Homo sapiens: one gene and its partners. The protein of the gene in region 1 binds, or shares a complex with, the protein of each later gene. Each region holds a gene or a part of one and is shown in the gene's direction. Other genes may lie near its edges.

Region 1 (10,545 bases):
ACATTTTGTTAAAATGAACAGAAGGAAGATTGGGAAGATCTTTTCTTTTTTTCCTGTTAAGGGACACTTGACCAAGAATGGGTAAAAATCATTTGAAGGTCACACATACATAAAAAGAATATGGGGTTAGGTGCTGTGGCTCACACCTGTAATCCCAACAATTTGGGAGGTCGAGGCGGGCCGATCACCTGAGGTCAGGAATTGGAGACCAGCCTGGCCAACATGGCGAAACCCCGCATCTACTAAAAACACAAAAATTATCCAGGAGTGGTGGGTGCCTGTAATCCCAGCTACTCAGGAGGCTGAGGCAGGAGAATCGCTTGAACCTGGGAAGCACAGTTGCAGTTAGCTCAGATTGCACCATTGCACCTCAGCCTGGGCGACAGAGCGAGACTCCGTCTCAAAACAAACAAACAAACCAACCAAACAACATGGGAGGGAAATGCAATTAGGCTAAATAGAAACCAAACAAGTGTTTAGTAGTTGCTTTGGTAGGTTCTAGAGTGGCACTGAATGCTACCATGAGATAAATTGTTTTGAGAAGTACTTTCCTTGATATTGTAAGTAAAGTAGCTCCATGCTTATAAAAGAACACGAATGAATATGTGGAAAAGGAAAAGAAAGAAAGTATATTTGAAGCATGGAAAGAATAAGTGGTAAGGGAGATATGTAGTCTTCAAATTCAGGCAGATTTTTCTTTCAAAATAAAAAAGGTTCTACCCCTTTCCAATACCAAGTAATAATGCACATTGTAAAATGTTGAAGACAATACTGAAAGGGGTAAAGAACATAAAAATGGTCCCTGAGCGGTGGCTTATGCCTGTAATCCCAGCACTTTGGGAGGCCGAAGCAGGTGGATCACCTGAGGTCAGGAGTTCAAGACCAGCCTGGCCAACATGGTGAAACCCCCATCTCTACTAAAAATACAAAAATTAGTCGGGCATGGTGGCGGGCGCCTGTAATCCCAGCTACTCAGGAGGCTGAGGCATGAGAATCGCTTGAACCCGGGAGGCAGAGGTTGCAGTGAGTCGAGATCATGCCACTGCCCTCCAGCCTGGGTGACAGAGTGAGACTCCATCTCAAAAAAAAAAAAAAAAAGAACATAAAAGTGACTAAAAATGTATGCTCATCTAGGCTTTTTTCTAGGCATATTTATACATATCTTTTAAATAAAAATGGAGTCACACAAGCTGTATTGTAAATCGCTTTTTTCATTAAAAACGTAACCTGAGGCCGGACACGGTGGCTCATGCCTGGAATCCCAGCACTTTGGGAGGCAGAGGTGGGTGGATCACTCGAGGTCAAAAGCTGGAGACCAGCCAGGCCAACATGGTGAAACCTCGTCTCTACTCAAAATACAAAAATTAGCTGGGCGTGGTGGCACGAGCCTGTAGTCCCAGCTACTCAGGAGGCTGAGGCAGGAGAATCGCTTGAAACCAGGAGGTGGAGGTTGCAGTTAGCCGAGATTGTGCCACTGCACTCCAGCCTGGGTGACAGAGTGAGACTCCGTCTCAAAAAAAAAAAAAAAAAAAGTAACCTGAACGTATTTCCAGCTCTAGGTACTTATTTTTAATGCTACATGGTAGTCTATTATGTGGTTATACTATAACTAATTGTTGTTGGATGGTTATTTTTTCTGATTTGTCAATATTTCGATGTTATAAACCACACTGTAATTAGCATCTTTGCACATTCATTACATACATATTTGCAAATTTGTCCACTTCTTTCCTTAAAATAAATTTCTGTACCTGGACATGTTTGTCAAATACTATGAATATGAGTCTTTTGAAACACATTACCAAATTGCCTTAAGAAAACTGGGAGTGGTGGCTCATGCCTGTAATCCCAGCACTTTGGGAGGCTGAGGTGGGCGGATCACAAGGTCAAGAGATCGAGACCATCCTATCCAACATGGCGAAAATCCGTCTCTAATAAAACTACAAAAATTAGCTGGGTGTGGTGGCGCACGCCTGTAATCCCAGCTACTCGGGGGGCTGAGGCAGGAGAATTGCTTGCACCCAGGAGGTGGAGGTTGCGGTGAGCCGACATTGCGCCACTGCACTCCAGCCTGGTGACAGAGTGAGACTCTGTCTCAAAAAAAAAAAAAAAAAGAAAACTGATATCAATTTGTCCCACTGGCAATACAAATGTGCCCATTTCATAGGATCTTCATCAACAATTAATATTATCGATTTTTTATCCTTGACATTCTAACAGGCAAAAAAAGGAACTTTTTAAAAAATTTTTTAGTTCATAAAATTTTTCTGTTTTGTTTTTTTGAGACAGAGTTTCACTCTTGTTGCCCAGGCTGGAGTGCAATGTCGCAATCTCGGCTCACTGCAACCTCTGCCTCCCGGTTCAAGCGATTCTCCTGCCTCAGCCTCCCGAGTAGCTGGGATTATAGGTGCCCACCACCACGCCCAACTAATTTTTTTTCTGAAGTTTTAGTAGATACGGGGTTTCACCATGTTGGCCAGGCTGGTCTCAAACTCCTGACCTCAGGCAATCCACCCGCCTCAGCCTCCCAAAGTGCTGGGATTACAGGCGTGAGCCACCGAACCCAGCTATTGTTTTTTAATTATTATGGATACATAATAGTTGTACCTCATTGTTTTTATTTTTGATTAATTACTAGTGAGGCTGAATATATTTTCAAGTACAAGGTTATTTACTAACAAGAAAAAAAGAATATATTGTCATATGCTTATCAGCCACGTGTTTTATCCTTTTATGAATTATCCATTCATGTTCCTTGCACATTTTGAAATGGAGGTATTTATCTCTTTTTTTTTTTTTTTTTTTTTTGAGATGCAGTCTTGCTGTTACCCAGGCTGGAGTGCAGTGGCATGATCTCGGCTCACTCCAACCTCTGCCTCCCGGGTTCAATCAATTCCTTTTCCTCAGCCTCCCAAGTAGCTGGGACTACAGGAGTGAGTACGCCACCACGCCCAGCTAATTTTTGTATTTTTTTTAGTAGAGACGGGGTTTCACCATATTGGCCAGGCTGGTCTTGATCTCCTGACCTTGTGATCCGCCTGCCTTGGCCTCCCAAAGTGCTGGGATTACAGGTGTGAGCCCCTGCGCCCGGCCGGTATTTATCTTTTTAAAAATCAATGTTTAACAACTCTTTATAGGCTGATATTAGCCATATGTGTTTATCACATATGTAACATTTTTGCTAGTGTTTCGTCTTTTTATTAAGTAAAGATATTACCCCTTGGCTCTAATATGTCATTATGAAATGATTTTTTTCAATTTATCATTTGTCTTTTAACTTTACCAACCTTGTATTTTGACATTTAGAAGGTTTACTTTTATTTATGAAGTTGTACTTATTAGTCTTTCCCATTATGGATTTTGTGTTGTATTTCAAAAGTGCTTCTGCATCCCCAAGGCTATAGAAATATTAACCTAGGCCTGGACAGTGGCTCACGCCTGTAATCCCAACACTTTGGGAGGCCCAGGCAGGCGGATCATGAAGTCAGGAGTTGGAGACCAGGCTGCCCAACATGGTGAAACCTCATCTCTACTAAAAATACAAAAATTAGCCAGGCGTGGTGGTGCATGCCTGCAATCCCAGCTACTGGGGAGGCTGAGGTAGGAGAATCGCTTGAACCCAGGAGACGGAGGTTGCAGTGAGCTGAGATCATGCCACTGGACTCCAGCCTGGGCAACAAAGCAAGACTCCATCAAAAAAAAAAAAGAAAGAAAGAAGGAAGGAAGGAAGGAAGGAAGGAAGGAAGGAAGGAAGGAAGGAAGGAAGAAAGGACAGAAATAGTAACCTGTATTTTCTTCCACTTCTTTTATGATTTTATATTTTAGATTAAGCCACATAAGCCTCAAGAATACGTTAAGGAGTGGCTAATGTTATTGCCATAATCAGAATATCAGGCTTAATGGCAATTGCAGGCTACTGAAGAATTCCTTTTACACGTTCTAGGTAATCGTTCTAGTACATGATTATGTAAAATAAGACAAAAACCTGAGTAGAGACACAGCGCCTAAATCATGTATCCCTCTGCCAAAAATGACAATATCAATGAGTCTTCTAGGGAGTTGGGCAGGTAAGTATGAGGGATATTGTTTTAACTGCTTGGAGTGAAATACTTATATTCCAGGCTGATATAACATCCATCATGGTGAGGGGGTAATTCTCCCAAAGTATTTTGAGGGCTTACTATGTGGTCGCTGGGGACACAACAGTGAACAAAACAGAGAGGTTTACTGCTCAGAAAGGGTGAAGTAAACAAACAAATAAATAACTTACTTTCAGATTAAGTGTTTTACAAGAAAAGTAAGCAGGTAAGGAGATGGGAGAAGTCGTTATTACTTTTTTCTTTTTTTTTTTTTCCTCAGACCTTTTTCCGCCTTCAGGAAGAAGTTATTTTAGGTAGGGTGGTCAGGGAAGGCTTCTCTAGGAAGTTAATAATTGCGAGGCTTGGATGATGAAAGCAAAGATATGAAAGTAAAATATTCCAGCAAAGGTAAAGTAGTTGAAGTAGGAAGAAGTTAGCTTTGTTGGAAAAACCGTAACAAAGCCAGCATAGCTGGCATGCTATTGGAAAACAGAAAAATTGGGAAAAGGAAAAGAATCTAAAAACTTGGGTAAGGTTTTCCTTTAACTGTGACAATGGGAGTGGCATGCTGTGTGGCGAGTTCCCTCAATTCTTTCAGGCATTACTACCTAAGAAAGGCCTTCTTTAACTGCCCTTTTACAAATCCCAACGTTATCAGATTTTCCCACCCTTTTACAATCACCGCCCTTTTTCGAATACTTTAGAGTTAATGCCTCAAAGTTATCAGTCTTTTAAACATCACGAATCCGTTTGTCCCTACAAGGAACTCTTCTGTCCCCCTTCCTTGATTTTTCTCCTTGGCATTTATCACTAACATGATATGTATTTATGTTTGATTTTTTCTAAATTATTGTCCCTGGCCCCTATAAAGACTCAAGAGAACTGGGATTTTGATCTGTTTTCTTTTTTTTTTTTTTTTTTTTTTTGAGACACAGCCTTGCTCTGTCACCCAGGCTAGAGTGCAGTGGCGAGATCCCGGCTCACTGCAATCTTCGCCTCCTGGGTTCAGCTATTCTCCTGCCTCAGCCTCCCGATTAGCAGAGATTACAGGCGCCCGCCACCACGCCCGGCTAATTTTCGTATTTTTAGTAGAGACTGGGTTTCACCATGTTGGCCAGGCTGGTCTCGAACTCCTGACCTCAGGTGATCCGCCCGCTTCGGCTTCCCAAAGTGCTGGGATTACAGGCGTGAGCCACCGAACGTGGCCTGTTTTCTTTCTTAATTTTGGTCTATTTTAATTTCCTAAGCAGCTACAATGGTGCTTGACATGCAGTTGGCACTGTGTAAATACATGTTGAATAAAACGCAGGCTACTTTTTGAACTGGTCTGCACGGATTGTGTGAACTGATGTGATGTCAGGGTAGACTAATATCACATTTCTCTCTCTCTGAAAATGTCTTCAAGCAGTCAGACCGTGACGTCCTTCAGTTTTCAAAATGGGAAAGCGAAGGTTCCCACAATTCTCAGAACGCAAATTTCTCGCCACAATTCAAAATGGCGGAGGAGGGTGGGGCCTGTCACATGGTGGGCGTCATAACAGCTTTCCTTTTCCAAACCGCCGCCCGCCTTGCCGCGTCGTCTGCCGTCCCCCTCCTCCTCCCGCGGAGCCTTTTCGAGGAATCGACTGGGATTGGCTAATAGGCTGGGAGTGGGGCTGCGGTGCCGGGACGCGGCATCATCACTTCCTGTTGTGGGCAGTCGTTTCCTGTCGCTGCTTGGTAACAATGGGGAAGATAATGGCTGCCTGAGCAACGTCTCCGAGCAGGCGCTGGGCTAGAGGCGGGTCTCAACCAGCTACTCATTGGAGGCGGGCTTGAGAGCGGCGGCCAGGGAGGTGCGGAGCAGCCTCGGCGGCGGCGGCCGAACCAACCGAGTCGGATCCTGACCCTAAAACCTAGTAAGTGAAGACTTGGGAATCCTGTGAGAAATGATGTAGAGCGAGAGGAAGACAGCGGAGCCGCGGCTGCCGCGTTCTCTCAAAATGGCCCGAGTGACGCGTCGTGGCAGAGGCTCAGCGCCGCCTCCGGACCCCAGGCCCGTTGCTGCGGGGGGCTCCGTGGCGTAGTCGCCGCTGCCATTTTAGTTGAGTGGTATAGTCGACAGGCTCTTTGAAGGGGAAGGAGGTGGGTAGTACTTCCTCTCGGTGGCCGCGCGAGCTGCAGCCCAGGCCCTCCGGAGCCTTAGGAAATCGGGGGAGGCAGTTTTTGAGTTTTGGCCTCAGGCGTCAGAATCTTAGAACGTCTCAGGCTTTTTCTTCTCTGTTCTCTGGAGGCTTCCCTGACCTCCCCGCGTTTTCCATGGCGGGCTTGGGTTTGGGAAAAGGGAAGTAAAAAATCAGGCTGCCCCAAGTGAGATGCTGGCAACTCTTGGGCCTTTAGATTTCCAAAACCTCATTTTGAGCCCTTCTGCAGGGTATTACCAATTAGGCGCCCCCTGGGGCCGCGATGACATCTTCCCTGAGGATCTGAGGCAAATGTGGTTTACTCCCTTGCTCGAATAACCCTGGCATATCCTTTGCCAGGTATCACTGGAAGGATCCCCCCGCAAAAGAGAGGGAAAAGCCGTTAGGTGTTTGTTGTGTTCTCCTGGATAAGGGATGGAATTGGGCCAAATTTTCAAGTTAATTTGTGTTTAATCCACCAACAACTCAATCCCTCCCCCATTAAAAAAAAAAAAAAAAGCCTAGGGGGGTCTCTGCTTCTGCAGACGGTACCTGCCACGCATGCCATAGCTTAGTAACTAGTATTAACCGGTTGGGCTTCTGCTTCCTGAATACTCGGTCCCTTTTTCCCTTATGCTGATTAATTTCAAGATGGAGGAGACAGCCACGTTCCTTCCCTAGACAGTTTCACCATACTTATTCCACAGGTTAGTCTGGGAATCTGAGGCCTAGCAGTCTTGTTATTGAGGTCATTTTTTTTTTCATTTTGGGGCAAGAGGAAGCAGTTGTATCAGATTGTCATCTTCCATTTGCAAGACCCCACAATGATTTTTTGCCAGAAGTAAGGAGCCCGCATTTCCTGAATCAGAATTAACCGCAGTGTTTTGGACTGATTGAAAGGGGGAAGAAATAATAAACCTACTGCTACTAATCATTTCTTTCATTCTTCGTGATTATAGACAGAGTAACTACTTATCACCCCATTAAGTACATTGTATCTTCCCTGGAGGACTGGCACAATTATAACCCCTCCCCCCCCATGACTTTTCTAAACTGTAGAAATATAGCTTAGGTAGCTAGAAAGACCAATCCACTTTTTAAAACTTGATTTTAGGACACACTCCACTTACTGAAAAATGTTACAAAGATTTTTTTAGTCCATGATGTTCTGATGAATTTTAATACTTTAGTTCCTACCTTAGGCTAGTGTAATGTGCCAGATAAGTCCTTGAAAGTGACTATCAGAATCTGAAAATAATTACTGGTCTGATAAGGAAAGGCTTATTTTAAGCAAGCTTATAATAAAACGTAAATTGTCTCTCAGTCTTAGAAGACATCTTTTATCTAACTCCTGGTCCCCTCTGACCTTCTTGCTCTCCCCAAATGCCCTAATACTAATATTGAATTAGGTTGGGTTATGGTGTGTCTGTATTTTTTTTTTTAGGTTGTGTCTAATTCAAAGAAAATGTGTATCTTTTTAAAGAGGAAGAATAATGGATTCTTTTTTTTTCTAGAGCAGAGTGAAGAAAACTAAAATCCAGTTTATTGTATTTCAATACTATGTCATAACAGTCAGGTAATTTATTTTTTGTTGCGTCTCCTGATGATTTATGTGTAGAATGCATGTTTACAAATATTTATTGTTCTATTTTGCAGGCCCTGTAATTGGATGGGCTCATTGATAGATGTTAGATGGTGTTGGGTATTCTTCATGATAAGAATGGGTACTTTTCACTGGGAATTAAAAGGGTAATGTTTCTGGATACCTGGAACTCACCAGTGCTTTATCTGTGAATTTGACTCTTTAAAATAATGTCTGAAGTTTACCAATACCTGTATAGAACAACAACAACAAAAAATTTGTTGTCTTATATCATTGTTGGAATGGCATGAGTATAAGTAAAATAACATTTAAATGTTCATTGGATAACTAAATGAAATATCAGAATAGCTTACGAGAGTATAATTTTACGTTACTTTGTGTGTGGTGGTTGATTTTTTTCCTTTAAGATTCAAAAATTCATAATTGATACATGATACTTTTAATTGATATTGACTCCTTTCATTATTATTATCATCATCATTAGGGTAACCACATAATTTATTGCCTAACCAAGACACTTTTAAGAACAAAAGGAACATTAATAATTCCTGGACAGCAGGTGCAAACCTTGATTGTCCCCGACAAACTGGGATGGATACTTAGCCTAAATTCATAACCAACTTCTGCTGAAGGCCTGTGGTGCTAGGCCATGTGCTTTATATGCATTATTTTATAATTCTCACAACAGAGCCTCATGAGAATGTTAACTTTTATAGAGGAAACCAAAAACCCAAAGAGGTTAAGTATAATTTGTCCTCAGTTAAATAGCTTTAAGTGGTGGAGCCCTCATTTTATCCCAGGCCTGTCTGACGTTATACTTCTGGGTTTGATTGCTGTCTAATTAGATAGGAAATGCAATGAAAATGAAAGGTTGTAGTAAAAAGTCTGTAGGTTATGTTGCATCAGAAACTTTTGTTAATACTTAAAGGTTATCCAGCAATCCCCCCTTTTCGTCTGTTACGTTCCTGTTTCAGCTATTATGCATGTTTACACATATTTATTGTTCTATTTCACAGGCCCTGTAATTGGATGGGCTCATTGATAGATGTTAAATGGATAGCTCCTTGTATATCATTTGATAAACTTAATTTAAAATCAGAAATGATTTTAAGAAATAGCTTAATAATTAAATGATCTGGAAATACTAGGCTGGTTGGATATCTTTGAGGTTAGTGAACATGTAGTGAGCCTTAATATAGTAGTAGGTCAAATGAGGCATCTGCATTTATGGAATTATATTATATGTACATTAATTTTTCCATGGCCATGGTGGATTAGAAATAGAGCAAATCACCAGCCAGCCTCCTGTTCTCTTCATTTACCATAGAGTGGATGACAAATTAGAGAATAAAAAGTCTTCTGTCAAACCCAAACCAATGAGGGCCTAGAATTTTGTGCCACTGCCTAGAACTGGACAGGTTTTTCTTTAACACAAAGATTTCTAAAACCTATGGCCCATTGATTTCAGAAAGTATCTAGTTTACATAATAAATTGAAGTTCTGATGTCCAATATAAGAAAGTAATAACACTTCTGTATCTATTTTTCTTTCATTTTTTTTTCTCAGCCTCAAACATGAAAGTTTCCCAGATAATCCAGCAATTCATTTCTCTTTTTATCAATTGAGGTATTTTTATTTATTTATTTTTTATTTTTTTATTTTTTTGAGACGGAGTCTCACTCTGTCGCCCAGGCTGGAATGCAGTGGTGCACTCTCGGCTCACTGCAACCTCCACCTCCTGGTTTCAAGCAATTCTCTTACCTCAGCCTCCCAAGTAGCTGGGAGTACAGGCGCTCTCCACCACGCCTGGCTAATTTTTGTATTTTTAGTAAAGATGGGGTTTCACCATATTGGCCAGGCTGGTCTCGAACTCCTGACCTTGTGATCTGCCCACCTTGGCCTCCCAAAGTGCTGGGATTACAGACGTGAGCCACCGCGACTGGCCAATTGAGGTATTTTTTAAATATACCTCAATTGGGGGAATATATTTATGAACTTGTGGTTTTTCTCCTGACATATATAGTTGGTATTTTTGCTCTAGATTTTCTTATATTTTAATGTTCCAACACAAGGGTTTTTTTTTTTTGGTTTTTTTTGTTTGTTTGTTTGTTTGTTTGTTTGTTTTTTGGTTAGGAGGGCAGGACGAGTTTTGCTCTGTCGCCCAGGCTGGAGTGCGGTGGCACGATCTTGGCTCACTGCAACCTCCGCCTCCTGGGTTCAAGCGGTTCTCCTGCCTCAGCCTCCCGAGTAGCTGGGATTACAGGCACGTGCCACCACGCCTGGCTAACTTTTGTATTTTTACTAGAGATGGAGTTTCACCATGTTGGCCAAGCTGGTCTTGAACCCCTGACCTCAGGTGATCCGCCCGCCTTGGCCTCCCAAAGTACAGGGATTACAGGCCTGAGCCACCGCGCCTGGCCACCAATCCAAGAGTTTAATTTCATTAGTCACAGTAGCACCTACATATCTGTGAGACAAATAATCTGTAGGCAGAGAGCACTTGGTGCATTACATAGATTGGTGGATTTCTTGCAATAATTTTGCAACTACAGGTTGGTTTGCTTTTATAACATTTGAGAGTCTAATGGCGTTTCCATGATGATGAACATGTTACTTCCTGGGAGAAAGGAAGTATTTGTGTTTGATGTTTAAAATTTTTTTCTGGAATGACAAAAGGTCCCTTCTGATCTCCCCTTGACTA
Region 2 (9,574 bases), on another chromosome or scaffold:
TTTAACAAACTTCTTCCTTTCCATGAGCTTGGAATGTTTTTCCATTTGTTTGTGTCACCTCTGATTTCTTTGAGCAGTGATTTGTAATTCTCATTGTAAAGATCTTTCACCTCCCTGGTTAGCTGTATTTTATTTTCTTTGTGGCTATTGTGAATGGGATTGTGTTCTTGTTTTGGCTCTCAGCCTGTATGGTGTTGATGCATAGAAATGCTACTGATTTTTGTGCATTGATTTTGTATCCTGACACTTTGCTGAAGTTGTTTATCAGGTCAGGGAGCTTTGGGGCAGAGACAGTGGGGTTTTCTAGGTATAGAATCATATCGTCTACAAACAGGGATAGTTTGACTTCCTCCCTTCCTATTCGAATGCATTTTATTTCTTTCTCTTGCCTGATTGCTCTGGCTAAGAATTCCAGTGTAATATTGACTAGGAGTAGTGAGAGAGGGCATCCTTGATTTGTTCTGGATTTCAAAAGGGGTATGCTTCTAATGTTTGCTCATTTAGTATGATGTTGGCTGTGGGTTTTTCATAGAGGGCTCTTATTATTTTGAAGTATGTTCCTTCAGTGCCTAGTTTGTTGAGGGTTTTTAACATGATGATATGTTGAATTTTAAAAGCCTTTTCTGCATCTGTTGAGATGATCACGTGGTTTTTTGTTTGCGTTGTTTATGCAATGAATCACATTTGTTGATTTGCATGTGTTGAACCAACCTTGCATCCCAAAGTTAAAGTCTACTTGATCATGGTGGATTTGCTTTTTTGTATGCTGCTGGATTTGGTTTGCTAGTATTTTGTTGAGGATTTTTGCATCTACATCCATCGATCCCTTTTAGTCTTGTTCCCTGTCTCTGTCCTCCCTTTTCTAGGTGGGACTATAAACCCTTTGGCTTCCAGGGTACCCAGTGTAGCTCCATCCATTAAAGAGGCAAGGTGGGAGTTGTCTGAGCCTTTTTCCTCTAGAATCAAAGGTGCACATACCACAGATCTCAAAAAATGCGAAGAGGTAGATTACGCAATATGACAATCTTTTTTTTTTTTTCTGGAAAGACGGTCTCGCTCTTTCGCCCAGCTGGAGTACAGTGGCGCAATCATGGCTCACTGTAATCACGACCCCCTGGGCTCCAGTGAACCTCCTACCTCAGCCTCCCAAGAAGCTGGGACCACAGGTACATGCCACCACACCCAGCTGTTTTTTGTTTTTTTTTTTTTTTTTTTTTTTTTGTAGAGATGGGTTCTCACTGTGTTGCCCAGGCTTGGTCTCAAACTCCTCGGCTCAGGCCATCCTCCTGCCTCAACCTCCCAAAGTGCTGAGATTACAGGCATGAGCCGCTGTGCCCAGTTGGTATGACAGTCTTTCACTCGCTTGCAAATAATAGTGATTGTTAGTTGACAGGTATGTACTCTTTGCTTCTAAATTGTGTAGGGAGACAGAGGTGAGATAGAGGAAGTAGAGGTGAGTAAGAAGAAGGTATGTTCCCCTTCATCAGTGATCTTGCAGTCTTACGCTTTCATTCAGGTTATTATTTTATGACTGGTATTTTGTTAACAAAAATGCCATGATGCTGGCTTGGAGCAGCGGCTCATCCTGTAATCGCACCACTTTTGGAGGCCAAGGTGGGAGGACACTTGAAGCTAGGAATTTAAGACCAGCCTGGGCAACATCTGCCGTCTCTACCAAAAAAAATAAATCAATAAACTGGACATGCTACTGTGTGCCTGTAGTCCCAGCTACTCAAGAAGTTGAGGCAGGAGGATTGCTTGAGCCCAGGGGTCAAGGCTGCAGTGAGCTATGATCCCACCACTGCACTCCAGCCAGGGCAACAGAGTGAGACCCTGTCTCAAAAAAAAAAAAAAAAAAAGACATGATTTTTATTAAACAGATGAGGAAATGTGATTTAGAGGAAAGCTTTGTATACCTAACTTCCATCTCTATGATATTCTGTTAACCACACTGTAGATCCTATACTTCTGCCTCAGGAAACCTCTAATACATGCCGTACTGGTGTTTGGGAGAATTAAGTACTTGAAGTCATCTAACTCTGTTCTGCATAAGTCTGAACATGCTCCTCTTTTCAAAAGTGTAAATAATTTTTGAACAAAAACAGAAAATGTGGGAGGCTTTGATTTCAATTTACTTATCTACTGATAAATTTTGTGGCTTTTCTTTAGTAAAAATGAGGAAAACTGACAGATGATAATCTCAAATATTAATAAAGATTTGGGAAAATAGTAACAATCTAGAAACCCAAAATGATGGGAAATATTTTCTTCTTGTTAGAGAAATAGGGTACAGTAATTTATGTTTGGAGCCTGGCTTGGATGGCAGAGTGAAACTGTCTCAACAAAAAAAAAAAATTATTTGGTTGATAACATGTTTTTTTTTTTTATTACCTTTTAGTGTTGCTAAATTCATGACTTTTATTTACCATTTATTAAGTTTAACATTCTGCTAAGAAACAGTATTTTCAGACTTTCACATTGAAAAGTCCTCCCTTAATTAAGCATATACAATTTACCATTTTCAGCAGAGATCCATTTTCACAACTAGCTCTTCAGGATTATTCCACTGAGCTGAATCTTTATGTGCAGCATATGAAAAAGTAGTTTGTAGCCTTTTTCTCCTTTCATGAAATATTAGCTTAAACATCAGCACTGCTACTGGGGGTAATATTCAGAAAATCATAGGGACATGTAAATTGATATGAGAAGATAGTTACTATGTTGAATAGAATTTTAAGTGAACATCAAATACTAATTGTTAGTGGTCTTTTTTATTTTTTTAGAAACAGAGTCTTGCTCTGTCACCCAGGCTGGAGTGTGGTGGCATGATCACAGCTCACTGTAGTCTTAAACTTCTGGGCTCAAGCGATCCTCCCACCTCAGCCTCTCAAGTAGGCTGGACTACAGGGGCACACCACCACACCTGGCTAATTTTTGTTATTTTTTTGTGGAGTTGGGGGTCTCAGTGTGTTGCCCAGGCTGGTCTTGAACTCCTGGCCTCAAGCTGTCCTCCACCCTCAGACTCCCAAAGTGCTGGGATTACAGACGTGAGCCATCTGACCCAGCCAATAACATGATTTTTTTAATTCCTTCATTGTGTATTTTTACTTTATCCCTTCATTTTATACTTTAAACAAATTTAAGATTTGTATAACTTCCAAAGATGCATGCATGGTAATGGTCCTCACATCGTTGTTTTTAAAACAAAAGTTGGAGAGTACCCAAACATCTAAAAACAGGAAATTCGTTCTTAATTCAGGTATTAGAAATGATGAAGTAGATCTACAATTATCTATGTAAAAAGTTATTTACCATATCGGTATAAAAATCATAGTTATTTTTTAAAAGATTACAAAAGCAGACTATAAATTAATCCCTTTTTTTTTTTTTACATCATGTGATTAGAAGTGTAGGAAGAAAACATACCACGATGTTAACAGCAGTTTTCTTTGCGTGGATTTATACACGAGATGGTCTTTACTTTCAACTTCCTGTCTTGCATATTGTCTGAGGTGGTTTTCTAAATTATTATTAATTACTGTTTTATAGTTAGTGTGTATAATTTTACAGGTGGAAAAAAAATTTTTTAATCAAATTTGAAAACGTAAAAGAACCTTGAAAGCAATTAAATGTTAAGCATGCAAAAAAAAGTTTGCACAACGCACGCTAATTGTTACCAGCACTCTAACTTGTTTTTAATTGTTTCTCCTTTTGCCTGTACTGAAATACTATTAACAGTTGATATGACACATTTTCCCACCCCACAGCTTCTTGTTCCCTTTATTCTTCATTTGTTTCCCTCCACCCCCTTTGAGCTGAAGTGGCAGACCTGTCTTATTCCCAGTGTGTACACTCTGGATGTGGGTACAGTTTGAGGTGGAACATATAAGTCAGTGTTATTCTTCTGACATTGAGCCTTACCTTCATCAGTAAGTTAGAATGGATCTTCAATGTGTTTCACTAATATAAGTTCTATTTAATTAAACACCTATCTTGAGTGATACAGACTTAAACTATTAAGGATGCCCACGTTTCACCCTACTCTTTGCATTCTAGAATGCCAGGAATCAGAACAAGATTACTTTTTTTGAAGGTAGAGAAATGTGACTCAGATTTCACTTTGGCCCCTATTACTCTAATGTCATTACTTAAGCTCAAGTGAAAGGCTACATTTTTAAAAAAGTATCCTGGCCAATTGCCAGATATTTTGTGTCTGTATTTGGTAGTGCTGGTTTAAATCTTGTTGAATCTTGACTGGACTGGGTGAAATGGTAGAGTTTTCATTTCAACATCTGAGAAAATGAAGAAGAATCACAAAGAGTAGGCAGAGAGGCAAACGTTTCGAACAAACCCACATACTAAGTAGTCTACTAATTGTGATATAAGTGAATGTAGGAAACTGGCTTCTCCCTGGAATAATTATTACGAGATTTACACAATTCCAGGAAAACTTAAGCAAGTCTTGTTGAGCAGGCTTTCAAAGGCTTTGTTATCATGAGCTTCAGCAGATAGGTTAAAAAGTGGTGTTTCTATTATACCTTTCATATTGAGAACATATGACCATGAGTGCCTTACAAGGTTAGTCTCAGGATCTTCCCAAGTTGCCGGTGGTGTTGGGCCACAGACGTAGTTCCATATTCTCTACTATTTTTTTCCTACCAAACATTAGCTTTTGATGATTTTTCTCATTTTCCCTAGTGGATCCTCCTTACCTGACTGCTCTAATATACCCAAATTCCCAATACCAAAAATAGGGGAAATATAAATCGGGGAAAGAGTGAAATTAGAGAATTGGAGGGAAAAGAGTAGAATCTGGGATCTTTAGGAACCTAAGTTACTTTTTTTTTAATTGCTTTGCTTTTTGTTTTTTTGTTTTTTTGTTTTTTTTTTTTTGTCTTTTTTTTTAAAGAGGGTCTCACTCTGTCACCCAGGCTGGTATGTGGTGGCACGATCATAGCTCACTACAGACTCAAACTCCTGGACTCAAGCGATCCTGCTGCCTCAGCCTCTTAAAGTGCTAATATTACAAGCATGAGCCACCGTGCCCCAATTTTTTTAATTAAACGTTGACCCAATCAATATTCTGGATAGAGAGCTATCTCCCAGCACCCTGTTAAGTTAAGCACCCTGTTAACTAACAGCACCCTGTTAGTTAAGAGGGTGAACTCTGGCTCCAAGCCCTGCTCCACCCCTTTCTCCACGTTGGGCAAGAGACTCAGCCTCCTTATGCTCCAATTTCCTCCTGTGTCAGCTCCTTAGAAATCCATGTCATTAACATATTAGAGTTTTAGGACATGGTTAGTCATGGTGAGTGTTAGCTATTATTAACATCTATTAGTATTTTTGTAATAATGAGCTATGTAGGTTGGATGTTACCAAATTTTGAGGAAGAAGTGGACCATCTCTCCCCTCTTTTGACTGTCCAGCTCAGACTCTGGCGTCTCCTCAGATAAGGTAATCTGGCAGGAGAATGCCACCTGCCTGTGGTGCTAGCCTAGGGTAAGGAGTTGTCCAGACCGCCAAACGTCTTCCCAGGAGAGCTCATCAAGAGCCCATGAGTCCCCTGCCCACAGCCCACCTGCATTTTCTCCGTGAAATATCTACTTGAAGACAGGCATCTCACACCTGTAATCCCAGCACTTTGGGAGGCTGAGGCAGGAGGATAACTTGAGCCCAGGAGTTTGAGACTATCCTGGACAACATAGTGAGACCCCCAAAATTACAAAAAAAAATTTGAAAATTAGCCAGGTGTTGTTGCACACACCTGTGGTCCCAGCTACTCAGGAGGCTGAGGCAGGAGGAGGATTGCTTGATCCCAGGAGGTCAAGGCTACACTGAGCTGTGATCATGCCACTGCACTCTAGCCTGAGTGACAGAGCAACACCCTGTCTCAAAAGAAAAAAAAAAAAACCAATACGAGGGGAGCAAGGTGAGAAGTATGTGGTGGGTACAGGGAAAGAGAATAAGACTTGTCAAGAAATATGACAAGAGCTATCAGTAAAATACAGATAGGTGACTCTTGGGGCAGCTGGTGTGAAATGTAGTCTGTCAGCAGCAGGTGACTGGCTCAGCCGCAGCAATGGTGGTCCAGGTTAGAACAGCAGCTTCTCATCTCCTACCCTCCCACTCCTTGCCAGCTTTCTGAACACTTCTTCCCCCACAGTGCTGGTATTTACTGACTCCCAACTCTGCTTTCCTTGCAGCTGACCCTCTGGTGGGCAGCATCGCCACACAGTACATGACCAACAGAGCAGAGCATGACCGGATGGCCAGACAGTGGACCAAGCGGTACGCCACATAGGGGCCTGCTGCCTGCCGCCCCGCGGGACCTGTGCAAGCACATTCACCAAGTGCATCGGTAGCCCTGCCCACCCCTCCAGACCTCGGTTCTTATTTTCCTATTTTTATTAAATTTGGAACCATTTTGTGATGGTATGTTGTCCATCTTCCCATCCCAGTTCTTCCTGCCCCCCTTCCTCTCTCCCACGCTCTCTTTTATCTCTCATTTTATTCCCTTGTTGATTTCTGTTAACTTGAAAGATTTGGGATTTTTTCCCACCTCATCATAGATGGGAACTTTTGTTTTCAGTGCAAACAATGTTGGAGCTGTAATAGTAAGAGCTTTCTTACAAAGCTTTGTATTACTGTGTGGTTTTGTTTTTTTTGTTGTTGTTTATTTGATTTTGATTTTTTTTTCTTTTATGTGATCTTTGGGAAAACACATTCAGAATTATATCTCGTTTCTACTTAAATGTAGTGCTTAGGGTTAATTTTTTGTACTGAAGTCTTTATTGGTGGGTGCATGCTACTGGGAACAAGTTTTTGTACAAAAGCTTCAATCAGAATCACTGTGCATTACTGAGACTCTGTTTATCACTAGCCTTCTGTCCCTCCCGCAGAAGACTGTTGGATTGAACAAAATAATATGTATTTTGATTTACTTAAAGTGCTTGTAAATTTCTTAGGGACCTGCCACTTTTGACTGTGGATCAGTTGATGTACACTTGTATTATTAAAGCACTCAATAAATCACTGTGGCTGATAACTGCACTTCTGGTAACCCGACATTTGCTTTGTGTCCTGGTGACCGCTGTAGCCCTACGTGCAGTGAGGCTTGTCTAATTCAATTACAGGTTCAAGTGTATTTTTCATCTCAAACCTCTAATATTTCTTTGGAGTTGAGTTGCTTAGCATGTGGAATTTCTCCAGCTGTCAGTAGCCTGATGATTTTATGGTTGTTATAGTAAATTGCTATCATTTTACATATTGACTGGGCATTCTTTCTGTTACAGCCTTCTTTATCAACAATTAAAATATGTAACTCCAAAAATAGCCTTCTTGTGAAAGTGAAGTCTGAGCTAATCATTGTGTTCAGCCACTTTCAACTTTATTTCTCTCAAAATTGTTACAGTGATTGCCCTCAAGCTTTGTATTGTTCATTTTTGTTGTTGTTGTTGTTGTTGTTGCTGCTCTTTTTTCTCCATGATTTTAGCAAAAGAAGTAAACTCAACTGTATTGGTCACGGTCAGCCCATTCAATGACAAGGGTGTCTGTCTGGCTTCACCTTCAGGCTATTTTAGTGTGCAGCTATAGGAGGCAGAGGAAACGTGGGTGGTGTAGTTTCTAAAACACGCTGACTTGCTGATTGATAATTCAGGGTTATTAGTGTAACAAAGCGTAGTGGAAACTCCTACTCCTGCTGCACCATACAGTTACAGACCCTACCATACTCTTGGTCTCATTTAAGGAACCATTAACACCTTCACTGCTGAAAAGCAGGATTTATAAGCATAAGTCATCCACCTCTAAATATTTTAACATTTAAAATGCCTGATTCAAAAGATACAGTTTTTGTTGTTTTTAACTAGTTAAAAATAAATCCTAAGAAAATATATTTAAATATTGCAAATGCCACTTCTAAACCAAAATACCTGAGAATATTTTTTGTCTTTTTAATAACGATTTTACCATTCATTTTATTTAAAAACATTTCTCAGCATAGCAGGGCACTGTATGGTCTCTGATGCACTACTCAACCCTCTAGTTGTAGTAGAGGGAGCCACAGACAGTACATAAATGCATTGGGCAGAGCTATATTCCAGTGAAACTTTATTTACCACCATAGGCATGGGATTTGGCCCATGGGTTGTAGTTTGCCAATCCCTGACACAGACCAACATAGACTGGGGGCTGGATGAAAAACAAATAACGATGTGTCATTTCTTTCTTTAACATAAAATAAATTCAATATGGTACAACACTGATTTTTGGAAAGTTGCTCAGAATGTTTAATTGCCTACAGTTTCTCACCACAAAGTTTTTTATTTTTACTTCAGATTTTAAAATTCAGCACTAAAGGCATTGAACCATTGAAAATAAAATTTTATTAAACTGCTTTTTTCCCCTACTTTTGGCTGATTAAACCAGACCCATAATACTAATACTTTAAAGACAATCTTTATAGGCAGTTTTTAAATTAAATTTTTTTTTTTTTGGTCTGTAGCAACAAGGTCTCACTGTGTTGCCCAGGCTGGTCTCAAACTCCTGGCCTCAAGTGATCCTCTCACCACAGCCTCCAAAACTGCTAGGATTATATAGGCTTGAGCCACTGTAGCCAGCCAACACACATTTTAAGTGATAAATATATTACATTGCACATTTCACATCTACTTGTACATCAGACCATTTAAAAATGTGTTATTAGGCCAGGCTTGGTGGCTCACACCTGTAATCCTAGCTTGGGACGCCGAGGTAGAGATTGCTTGAGCCCAGGATTTCGAGACCAGCCTAAGCAACATGACAAAACCCAGGCTCTACAAAAAAATACAAAAATGAGCTGGGCATGGTGGTGCACGCCTGTAGTCCCCGCCACTCGGGAGGCTTAGGTCAGAGGATCACCTGAACCCAGGAAGTCGAGGCTGCAGTGAGCCATAATTGCGCCAGTGCACCCCAGCCTGGGCAACAGAGCAAGACGCTGTCTCAAAAACAAAACAAAATTTGTGATATTTAGGAACCAAAGATTACAACAACTCTAGTAGGAATTCTAGTCACTGACCTGTTTGTTTTCCTGTGACCCATTTTTAGGTTTAATGCCCATCTGTGATATGAAGAGGCTGTAAAACTTCTCTCCCCAACTTTATGATTTATTCATACTTCATGACAAATGTACACAGCCCTCAAAATGTAAAAGCTAGAGAAACTCCAGAGAAACCAACAAACTTAGTAGAGCTGAAGTCTAGATTTCAAATAACATGGTCATTTTACTTGAAATCTGTAATTGCAGCAGGCAATACAATTCCAATAAATTTTTTAAAATGCATGTAAAATAAGATTTAAGAGTAATTTGACACTCAGTAAACAAAATTGTTTAGCTTAAAAATACAGGGATAACATTTCTAAAATTTAGGAATTATTTTGTACCATAATAATGCTGAATTTTTCACACTAGTTACTGCTAGATATAGTATTTGTAGCTATGTTAGATAAAATGTTGGCAGATCCTTGACTGAGGCAAGACCATTGGTTATTGAGGAAATGGTTTGAGATTATATTTGTTGATCTTAAATCATTCAAA
Region 3 (9,574 bases), on another chromosome or scaffold:
CACACTGAGGAGTAGTCATCCAAAAAAAATATATACATATGTATTTTAAAGGCTTTTAGGAATTGCTAGGTCCTTATAGAATCTAACTGGGAAGTTATCAAATACCTGTAGAAGCTTGTCCTCTTATTTTATAACCTGAGAAAGAGCAAGTGGGTATAATGTGTAATAATTTACAGATAAAGAAATGTAGACCTGCCGGGCGCGGTGGCTCACGCCTGTAATCCCAGCACTTTGGGAGGCTGAGGTGGGTGGATCACGAGATCAGGAGATCGAGGCCATCCTGGCTAACACGGTGAAACCCCGTCTCTGCTAAAATATACAAAAAAAACTAGCCGGGCTTGGTGGCGGGTTCCTGTAGTCCCAGCTACTCTGGAGGCTGAGGCAGGAGAATGACGTGAACCGGGGAGGCGGAGCTTGCAGTGAGCCGAGATCGCGCCACTGCACTCCAGCCTGGGCCACAGGCGAGACTCCCTTTCAAAAAAAAAAGAAATGTAGACTTTAATCTCTACATTGAATTATATGTGTAACGGACTTTTTCAGAGAGGGAACTATCTCTTTGACACAAAACATACGTTTTAATTAATAATACTTGCTCTGGTAATATAGTTTCTTATGAGTTGCTACATATTTTCTAGAATAGATTTTCCTTAAAATATGCCTTTGTAAGATTTTTTTAATAAAATCAAGTTTAGAAATAATTTGAACTTTTTTGGGGGATAGAGTTTCAGTCTTGTCGCCCAGGCTGGAATGCAATGGCACGATCTCAGCTCACCGCAACCTCCACCTCCTGGGTTCAAGTGATTTTTCTGCTTCAGCCTCCCGAGTAGCTGGGATTACAGGCACGCACCACCACACCTGTCTAATTTTTGTGTTTTTAGTAGAAACGGGGTTTCACCATGTTGGCCAGGCTGATTTCTAGTTCCTGACCTCCGGTGATCCACCTGCCTCAGCCTCCCAAAGTGTTGGGATTATAGGCGTGAGCTACCGTGCCCGGCCTGAACTTTTTTTTTTTTGGAGACGGAGTCTCCCTCTGTCGCCCAGGCTGGAGTGCAGTGGTGCTATCCTGGCTCACTGCAACTTCCGCTTCCTGGGTTCAAGCGATTCTCCTGCCTCAGCCTCCGGAGTAGCTGGGATTACAGGCACTCCGCCGCCATGCCCAGCTAATTTTTGTATTTTTAGTAGAGACGGGATTTCACCATGTTGGCCAGGCTGGTCTTGAACTCCTGACCTCAAGTGTTCTGCCACCTTGGCCTCCCAAAGTGCTGGGATTGCAGATGTGAGCCACGTCATCTGGCCTGGCCTGAACTTTTAGAATTCAATATTAACCATTTTCCCCTAGTTTATTCCCTAGAGCTCTTCACAAAGTATGGCTTGACTTCTCTGAGACAGCTAGTGATAAGAAAAATGAAGTTTATTTTGGTATACCACTCAAAAAGATTGTGAAAACAAAATGGAGATTAATTTTTTTTTTCCAAACTCTTTGTACCACAATTTTAAGTTGAATAGCTGACTTCCTAGGCATGGATAAGATCAGTTCTATCTTATCTTCTGTCCTAGTAATGTGTCTGCAGTGGAATCCCCATTGCTTGGCTTCTATAATTGATCTTGAACCTTCCCAATTATCATTCCCTGAAAAAATAATTCTACTTAAATACCTTCTTGACTTAAATGTCATGAGTTGCTACATCTGGGTTCTGATAAGATTTTTCTAAGAAAAACTACATTTGACATGTGACATCTTCAGGAATTCAATATCTTGTTTCTTTGACAGAGGGACGCTATTCATGTCTGTGAATTTGGCAGTCTTTGAAATGCCATGTCTTTTTTGGAAAAAGCTTTTGATGGACTTTATTTTGATATACATCTTAAGGTCCCCTGACCTATACTATAAGCAGAGCATAGCAAAGAGGGTCATTATGAACATTGTGTGTAGTTCTGGGCAGGGCTTGGGATCCTTTGGGATTGTTGGTATCTACACCACATGGCCCCACCCTGCTATGTTTTAAGGTTTTCTGCTGACTTTTTAGGTCTTCAGCCTTGATTTTGATGCTTTGAGTGCCTGCCTCTAGCAGCACCACCCCCAGCCCTTTTCCAGTTGGCTGCATCTCATCTGTTGTGGGCTAAGAAACCAGATCACAGAGCTTATTAAAATTGTGTCTAAAATAAGATCCAGTAGGCTCTTGACTGAAGAGGGCTTCATGTGCTCTGTGAACTGTGTGGTTTCCTTGGCTGATCGGAGACCTTTCTGACTTGCTTCCTGTTTTTCTTCTTTACTTTTGCTATACAGATGTAGGAGGCTTTTTGGTGCTCTTAGAGTGCTGTAATGTTGAAGTATTTGGTTAATTTCTCTATTCTTGGGAAGGGTAAAAGGCTAAATAAATATCTTGATTCTTTGAGGAGTTGAAGACTGACCAGAGTTGGATACTAAAAGCTTTTCTTAACAGTAATAGTGCATTGTACATTTTAATGGTGTCCTACTAGTTGCAGATAACGTTTGGCATACATAGCTTTCAAACAAAGTAATGCCAGGATTATCACTTGATCTATTTCTGTGATAGAGATTTTTTTTCTTTCTTTTTTTTTTTTTTTGAGGCAGTCTTGCTCAGGCTGGAGTGCAGTGTCATGATCTTGGCTCACTACAAACTCTGGCTCCCAGGGTCAAGCAGTTCTCTTGCCTCAGACTCCCAAGTAGCTGGGATTACAGGCACTCACCACCATGCCCAGCTAATTTTTGTATTTTTAATAGAGACAGGGTTTCTCCCTGTTGGCCAGGCTGGTCTTGAACTCCTGACGTCAGGAGATCCGTCCGTCTCGGCCTCCCAAAGTGTTGGGATTACAGGTGTAAGCCACTGTGCCCGGCCTATGGCTAGCTTCTTTTAAGGCGTCTCAAGACAAAGTTCTCAATGAAATAAAGATTTCAGGTCATGCACAGTGGGTCATGCACAGTGGGTCACGCCTGTAATCCCAGCACTTTGGGAGGCCCAGGTGGGCAGATCGCTTGAGCTCAGGAGTTCGAGACCAGCCTGAGCAACATGACGAAACATGGTCTTTACAAAAAATACAAAAAATTAGCTGGGTATGGTGGTGGATGGCTGTAGTCCCAGCTAGGTGGGAGGCTGAGGTGGGAGGATCTCGGGAGCCTGGGAGGTAGAGGCTGCAGTGAACCGTGATCAAGCCGCTACACTCCAGCCTATGCAACAGAGTGAGACCCTGTCTCAAACAAACAAACAAACAAAAAGATTTCAAACTCTGATGTCTATAAAAGCCAGGCAGGTACCAAAGTGAGCAGAGAGAACTTGAGGGAGCTAGAAAATGCATGTGCTATCAGATGAGGGCAACTGCTAACCAGCTCCCTGCAAATGTTGCTATTGCTAAAATCTGTGGGCCCAGTGTTGCAATATCTTCCATTCAAAAAAAAAAGAGAAGCCACAAATCCAGATTTTTTGGCAACCGATTCAACTTAAAAAAAAAAAGAACAACAAAATACGCATTTTTGGTCGACATCAGTTTAGTATGTGGATTAAAGTAACCAGGGATTGGGGTTCATTAAGTAATCAGGAGTGTAAAAAGATTAAGTCATTTAAACAATACTTTCTGTATTTTTAAAAGTTTGAAAGTAATGCTTTATGTAAGATTAAGTTTTCTTGTTTGTTTGTTTTTGAGATGGAGTCTTGCTCTGTCGCCCAGGCTGGAGTGCAGTGGCATGATCTCGGCTCACTGCAACCTCCGCCTCCCAGGTTCAAGCAATTCTCCTGCGTCAGCCTCCCGAGCAGCTGAGACTACAAGCTCGCACCACCACGCCCAGCTAATTTTTGTATTTTTGGTAGAGACGGGGTTTCACCATATTGGCCAGGCTGGTCTCGAACTCCTGACCTTGTGATCCACCTGCTTCGGCCTCCCAAAGTGCTGGGAATACAAGCATGAGACACCGTGCCCGGCCTTAAGTAGTTTTTAAATACAATTCTAATTAACTTGCTTTTTTTTTTTGAGACCTCAGGTGATTTGCCCGCCTTGGCCTCCCAGAGTGCTGGGATTACAGGGATGAGCCACTGCACCCAGCCAATTTGCTAAGTTTTTTTTTTTTTTTTTTTTTTGAGATAGAGTCTCGCTCTGTTGCCCAGGCTGGAGTGCAGTGGCACAATCTCGGCTCACTGCAAGCTCTGCCTCCTGGGTTCACGCCATTCTCCTGCCTCAGTCTCCCGAGTAGCTGGGACTACAGGCATGCACCCCCATGCCCAGCTACTTTTTGTATTTTCAGTAGAGACGGGGTTTCACCATGTTGGCCAAGCTGGTCTCAAACTCCTGACCTCCAGTGATCCACCCGCCTCGACCTCCCAAAGTGCTGGGATTACAGGCGTGAGCCACTGTGCCCCGCCTTTTGTATGGTTTTGTGTGAGGTCTTGGGAAAACCAGTTTTGTAAATACATTGATCCCGTAGAAGTTTATGTATTACTCTTCCATTATGATCTGTTTCATGTTTTGAGTTTCTCTGTAGACTGACAATACACTTTGAAAATGTCTGAGATTGGGAAGTTACCGAAGCATGATCTTAAAGAAAGTAGTTGTAACGCTGAACAGTACTGTATTTTAAAAAATTGCTTAGGCTGGGTGCGGTGGCTTATGCCTGTAATCCCCCAGTACTTTGGGAGGCTGAGGCGGGCCGACCACCTGAGGTCAGGAGTTCGAGACCAGCCTGCCCAATATGGTGAAACCCTGTCTCTACTAAAAATACAAAAATTAGCCAGGTGTGGTGGCACTCACCTGTAATCCCAGCTACTCAGGAGGCTGAGGCAGGAGAGTTGCTTGAACCTGGGAGGCAGAGGTTGCAGTGAGCCAAGATCTCGCCACTGCACTCCAGCCTTTGCAACAGCGAGACTCCATCTCAAAAAAAAAAAAATTGCTTAAAAATACTGTAGGCCGGGCTGGGCGCTGTGGCTCATGCCTGTAATCCCAGCACTTTGGGAGGCCAAGACAGGTGGATCACAAGGTCAGGAAATCGAGACCATCCTGGCTAACACGGTGAAACCCCATCTCTACTAAAAATACAAAAAATTAGTCAGTGTGGTGGCAGGTGCCTGTAGTCCCAGCTATTCGGGAGACTGAGGCAGGAGAATGGCGTGAACCGGGAGGCAGAGCTTGCAGTAAGTGGAGATCGCGCCGCTGCATTCTAGCCTGGGCGACAGAGCGAAACTCTGTCTAGAAAAAGAAAAAAATGAAAATAAAAAATACTGTAGGCCGGGCGCGGTGACTCACGCCTGTAATCCCAGCATTTTGGGATGCCGAGGTGAGTGGATCACGAGGTCAGGAGTTCAATACCAGCCTAGTCAAGATGGTGAAACCCTGTCTCTACTAAAAATATAAAAATTAGCCGGGCATGGTGGTGAGCACCTGTGATCCCAGTTACTGGGGAGGCTAAGGCAGAGAGTTGCTTGAACCCGGGAGGTGGAGGTTGTGGTGAGCTGAGATCGCACCACTGCAGTCCAGCTTGGGCAACAGAGCAAGACTCCGTCTCAAAAAAGAAAAAAAAATACTGTACTAGAGGTGTGGTACCATATATTAGATTAATATTAGAGGTAAGGACTGATTGAATTCCTATCAAAATGATGAATTAACAGGTAGTCCTGTGGAGTATTGGGAACTTTAATAAATGGTTGTCTGAATATGGCTATTTAAATTAGTTCTATCTTGGATAGTTCTATCTTGGATACCTTCTTACTCCAAAAGGTGAGCTTCTTCACATAAGTTCTGGGAATTTTTTTTTCCCCACTAAAAAAGTATTTTTTATTTCCTTTACAAAAGATCATTGAATTAAGGCACTTTCTTTGGCTCTACTAGATTGTTATTTAAATATAATTCAAACAGCCATCGAGGATAACTGTTAATAAATCTAGGTTTTCTCTGAAGTCTCCCAGTGTATATTACTGTACTGATGACTGACAAGGAAGAGGTTTTGACAAGGTCCAATTCTGTATATTTCTCTTAAAATATCCTAGGCAGTTCCCAGGATAGGAGTATCTGACTCATGCCTCATGCTACCAGGAACCTTTGCAGCCTCATCCCAGAAATGCAGAAACACACTTGTTTTGTCTGTAGAAATAAAGTTTTGATGGTTAGATTTCCAGGCAAACCTTCAAAATCATGTTAAACTATAATATAGGGAAATAAAGTAGTGTTTGTTCTTCTGTCTGCAGAGTCAAGTGAGATTTTGGGTAATAGAATCATAAAATGTTAGCACTGCAGCACATCTCAGGGCTGCTGTCTGGAAAGGCCGTGTGACCTACCAGGTAAGAGTAGGTCTGAATTGAGAACCTGGATTTCTGGACTGTCCAGTGTATTTTCTGGCAAGCCATGTGTTATCCTTACATAGCTGTTAGGTATATAAATCCAGAGGATGCAGCCTTTTTTCTTTTGTTCAAACAATTGGATATTTAAACTGTGTCCTGGAACCTGAAGATCTTCCTCAACTTCCCTTTATATGATTGGCAAGGTTGCTCATACTGCTTGAAACTGCAAATTTAGGCTTGACACAGTGGCTCATGCCTGTAATCCCAACACTGGGAGGCCAAGGTGGGAGGATTGCTTGTACCTAGGAGTTCAAGACCAGCTTGGTCTGTAATGGGAGACCCTGTCTCTACAAAAGCGAAACAAAGTGAAACAAAATTAGCTGGGCATGGTGATGTGTGCCTGTAGTCCTAGCTACTCAGGAGGCTGAGACAGGAGGATCACTTGAGCCTGGATGAAAGGTTAAGGCTACGGTGAGCTGTGATCATACCACTGCACTCCAGCCTGGGCAGCAGAGCCAGATTCTGTGTCAAAACAACAACAACAACAACAAAACAACTATTGCAAATTTGGTGTTCTATTCTCACCACCACCACCACCCCGCCTTTTTTTCCCCCGAAACGGAGTCTCTACCTCTGTCGCCCAGGCTGAAGTGCAGTTGTGCAATCTCGGCTCACCGCAACCTCTGCCTCCCAGGTTCAAGAGATTCTCCTGCCTCAGCCTCCCAAGTTGCTGGGACCACAGGTGCATGCCACCACGCCCGGCTAATTTTTGTTTTTTGTTTTTATTTGAGATGGAGTCTAGCTCTGACGCCCAGGCTGGAGTGCAGTTGTGTGATCTCGGCTCACTGCAACCTCTGCCTCCTGAGTTCAAGCAATTCTCCAGCTTCAGCCTCCAGAGTAGCTGAGACTACAGGCGCGTGCCATGATGCCCAGCTAATTTTTTGTATTTTTAGTAGAGATGGGGTCTCACTATGTTAGCCAGGATGGTCTCGATCTCCTGACCTCGTGATCCACCCACCTCGGCTGGTTTGGAACTCCTGACCTCAAGTGATCCACCTGCCTTGGCCTCCCAAAGTGTTGGGATTACAGGCATGAGCCACCACCCCCGGCTTTCTGCATATATCTTTCATCAGAGTCAAATGGATTTTGTTTTTTAAGTGAAAGCAAGTTTATTAGGAAAGTAAAGGAATAAAGAATGGCTACTCCCTAGGCAGAGCAGCCTCAAATGGGTTTTTAATCTCTAAAAAGACTAAAAACCACTGTCCTTCCACCTTAAACATTATTTTAATCTCAGCAGATGAACAGAGTACCTGTTCTGCAGAGAAAATATAAATCTTACGTGTGAGTTGTTAGGGATTTCCTTCAAGGTATTAAAACAACAGATCGGCTGGGCGCGGTGGCTCATGCCTGTAATCCCAGCACTTTGGGAGGCCGAGGCGGGTGGATCGTGAGGTCAGGAGATCGAGACCATCCTGGCCAACATGGTGAAACCCCATCTCTACTAAAAATACAAAAATTAGCCAGGCACAGTGGTGGGCACCTGTAATCCCAGCTACTTGGGAGGCTGAGGCAGGAGAATCACTTGAACCCAAGAGGCGGAGGTTGCAGTGTGCCGAGGTCGTGCCACTGTACTCTAGTCTGGGCGACAGAGCAAGACTCCCTCTCAAAAAAAAAAAAAAAAACAAACACAGATTTCAGCTATCCACTTTAGAGTACTCACTGTGCATCAGGAATTACTTGATCTTTTCAATAATCTTTCAATAATTCTGTTCTCCCCAGGTTAGATAAGGAAACAGTGGGAGAAATAAACTTGCCTAACATTATATGGTTATGGTAGGAAGAACTAGGATTCAGATACAGGCGATCTTGACTGTAGAGCTATTGTGTCTCCAGATTTACTTGTTTTAGTCATAGCCCTTCTCCCCTCTAATCTCTAGAGAAGCTTTACTTTTCCCTTTGCCAAACTTAACTTTTGCTTTCCATCCTTTTCTCTCTCTCTCTTTCCCTCTTTCCTTCCTTCTCTCCCTCCCTCCCTCACTTCCTCCTTCCCTCACTCACTTCCTCCCTCCTTCCTTCCTTTTTCCTTTTCTTGTTTTTGCTCTCCGGTAATTGTCTTTGTTTTCATACTTCCAATCTCTTCTCCACTAACTCCTCTTAGCATCCAAACTTATCGAAGGTTTTCCCCTATAAAAAAAAAAAAAGCAGTAAAATAACTTTTTAAACTTCCCTCTTCCATAAGAGCTACTTCCTTCCTCATCTTTATCCTTCCCATCTCTGACATTTCAGTCCCAGAATTCTTGAAAGAATAGTCTATTCACTGTTCTGGAACTATTTAGTAAGGTCACTAATGATTACTTAATTGCCACATTCAGTGGATACCTAAGTTTTTATTTAACTTTCGTAATAGTTGACATGATTTTCATTCAGTTCCTTTGGCTTCTGATAAACTGCTTTCTTCTTCCTCATATCTGGTGTTTCCCAACTTTATTAGAATGCTTATCAAAGTAGTATTGTTGATGGAGTACAAGCCAAAGTGTATGAAATCATGCATACTTGTATTAAAATTGAGAGCACTGGCTGGATATGGTGGCTCATGCCTGTAATCCCAGCACTTTGGGAAGCCAAGGCAGGAGGATCACTTGAGCTCAGGAGTTCAATACCAGCCTGTGCAATATAGCAAGACCCTGTGTCTACAAAAAATTAAATTAGCTAGGTGCAGTGGCATGTGCCTGTAATCCCTGCTACTCAAAAGGCCAAGACAGGAGGATCGCTTGAGCCCAGGAGTTTAAGGCTGCAGTGAGCTGTGATCATGCCAGTGCACTCCAGCTTGGGCCACAGAGCGAGATCTGTCTCTTAAAAAAAAAAATTGACAGCACAAATTACCTCAGATAAATTAATTATTATTCTTTTTTTTTTTTTTTTGAGACAGAGACTTGCTCTGTTGCCCAGGCTGTAGTGCAATGGCGTGATCTCAGCTCACTGCAACCTCCGCCTCTCAGGCCCAAGCAATTCTCCTGCCTCAGCCTCCCAAGAAAAGAAGCTGGGATTACAGGCATGCACCACCGTGCCTGGCTGATTTTTGTATTTTTAGCAGGTTTCACCATGTTGACCAGGCTGGTCTTGAACTCCTGGCCTCAAGTGATCCACCCGCCTAAGCCTTTCAATGTGCTGGGATTGCAGGTGTGAGCCACCATGCCCCACCTGATCTCAGATAAATTAATTAAAATATATAATCAAAATAATGTCACAAACAGAATTATTAAGAATTATCAAGATGAGGCTGGGCGCGG

The links.
Region 2: the proteins of RLIM (region 1) and UBE2E2 are in contact, whole or in part, in a crystal structure (PDB 6W9A), measured with the Homo sapiens proteins. Residues at the interface, in NP_057204.2 of Homo sapiens: Ser571, Val572, Cys573, Ile574, Thr575, Cys596, Arg599, Trp600, Pro608, Ile609, Arg611; in NP_001357154.1 of Homo sapiens: Lys52, Thr55, Lys58, Arg59, Lys62, Pro112, Asp113, Pro115, Phe116, Ile142, Asn146, Trp147, Ser148, Pro149, Ala150, Leu151, Thr152.
Region 3: the proteins of RLIM (region 1) and UBE2D2 are in contact, whole or in part, in a crystal structure (PDB 6W7Z), measured with the Homo sapiens proteins. Residues at the interface, in NP_057204.2 of Homo sapiens: Ser571, Val572, Ile574, His595, Cys596, Arg599, Trp600, Glu603, Pro608, Ile609, Arg611; in NP_003330.1 of Homo sapiens: Met1, Arg5, Lys8, Glu9, Asp59, Pro61, Phe62, Lys63, Ile88, Gln92, Trp93, Ser94, Pro95, Ala96, Leu97, Thr98.

What each region holds. Positions count from the first base shown.
Region 1 is NC_000023.11:74,609,854-74,620,398, reverse strand, and holds the start of RLIM (E3 ubiquitin-protein ligase RLIM), read left to right. Parts: upstream 1-5,774; 5' UTR 5,775-5,977; intron 5,978-7,755; exon of another isoform or gene 7,756-7,817; intron 7,818-10,545. UniProt on the Homo sapiens protein: E3 ubiquitin-protein ligase.
Region 2 is NC_000003.12:23,583,531-23,593,104, forward strand, and holds the end of UBE2E2 (ubiquitin-conjugating enzyme E2 E2), read left to right. Parts: intron 1-6,203; coding exon 6,204-6,301; 3' UTR 6,302-8,264; downstream 8,265-9,574.
Region 3 is NC_000005.10:139,563,458-139,573,031, forward strand, and holds part of UBE2D2 (ubiquitin-conjugating enzyme E2 D2), read left to right. Parts: intron 1-9,574.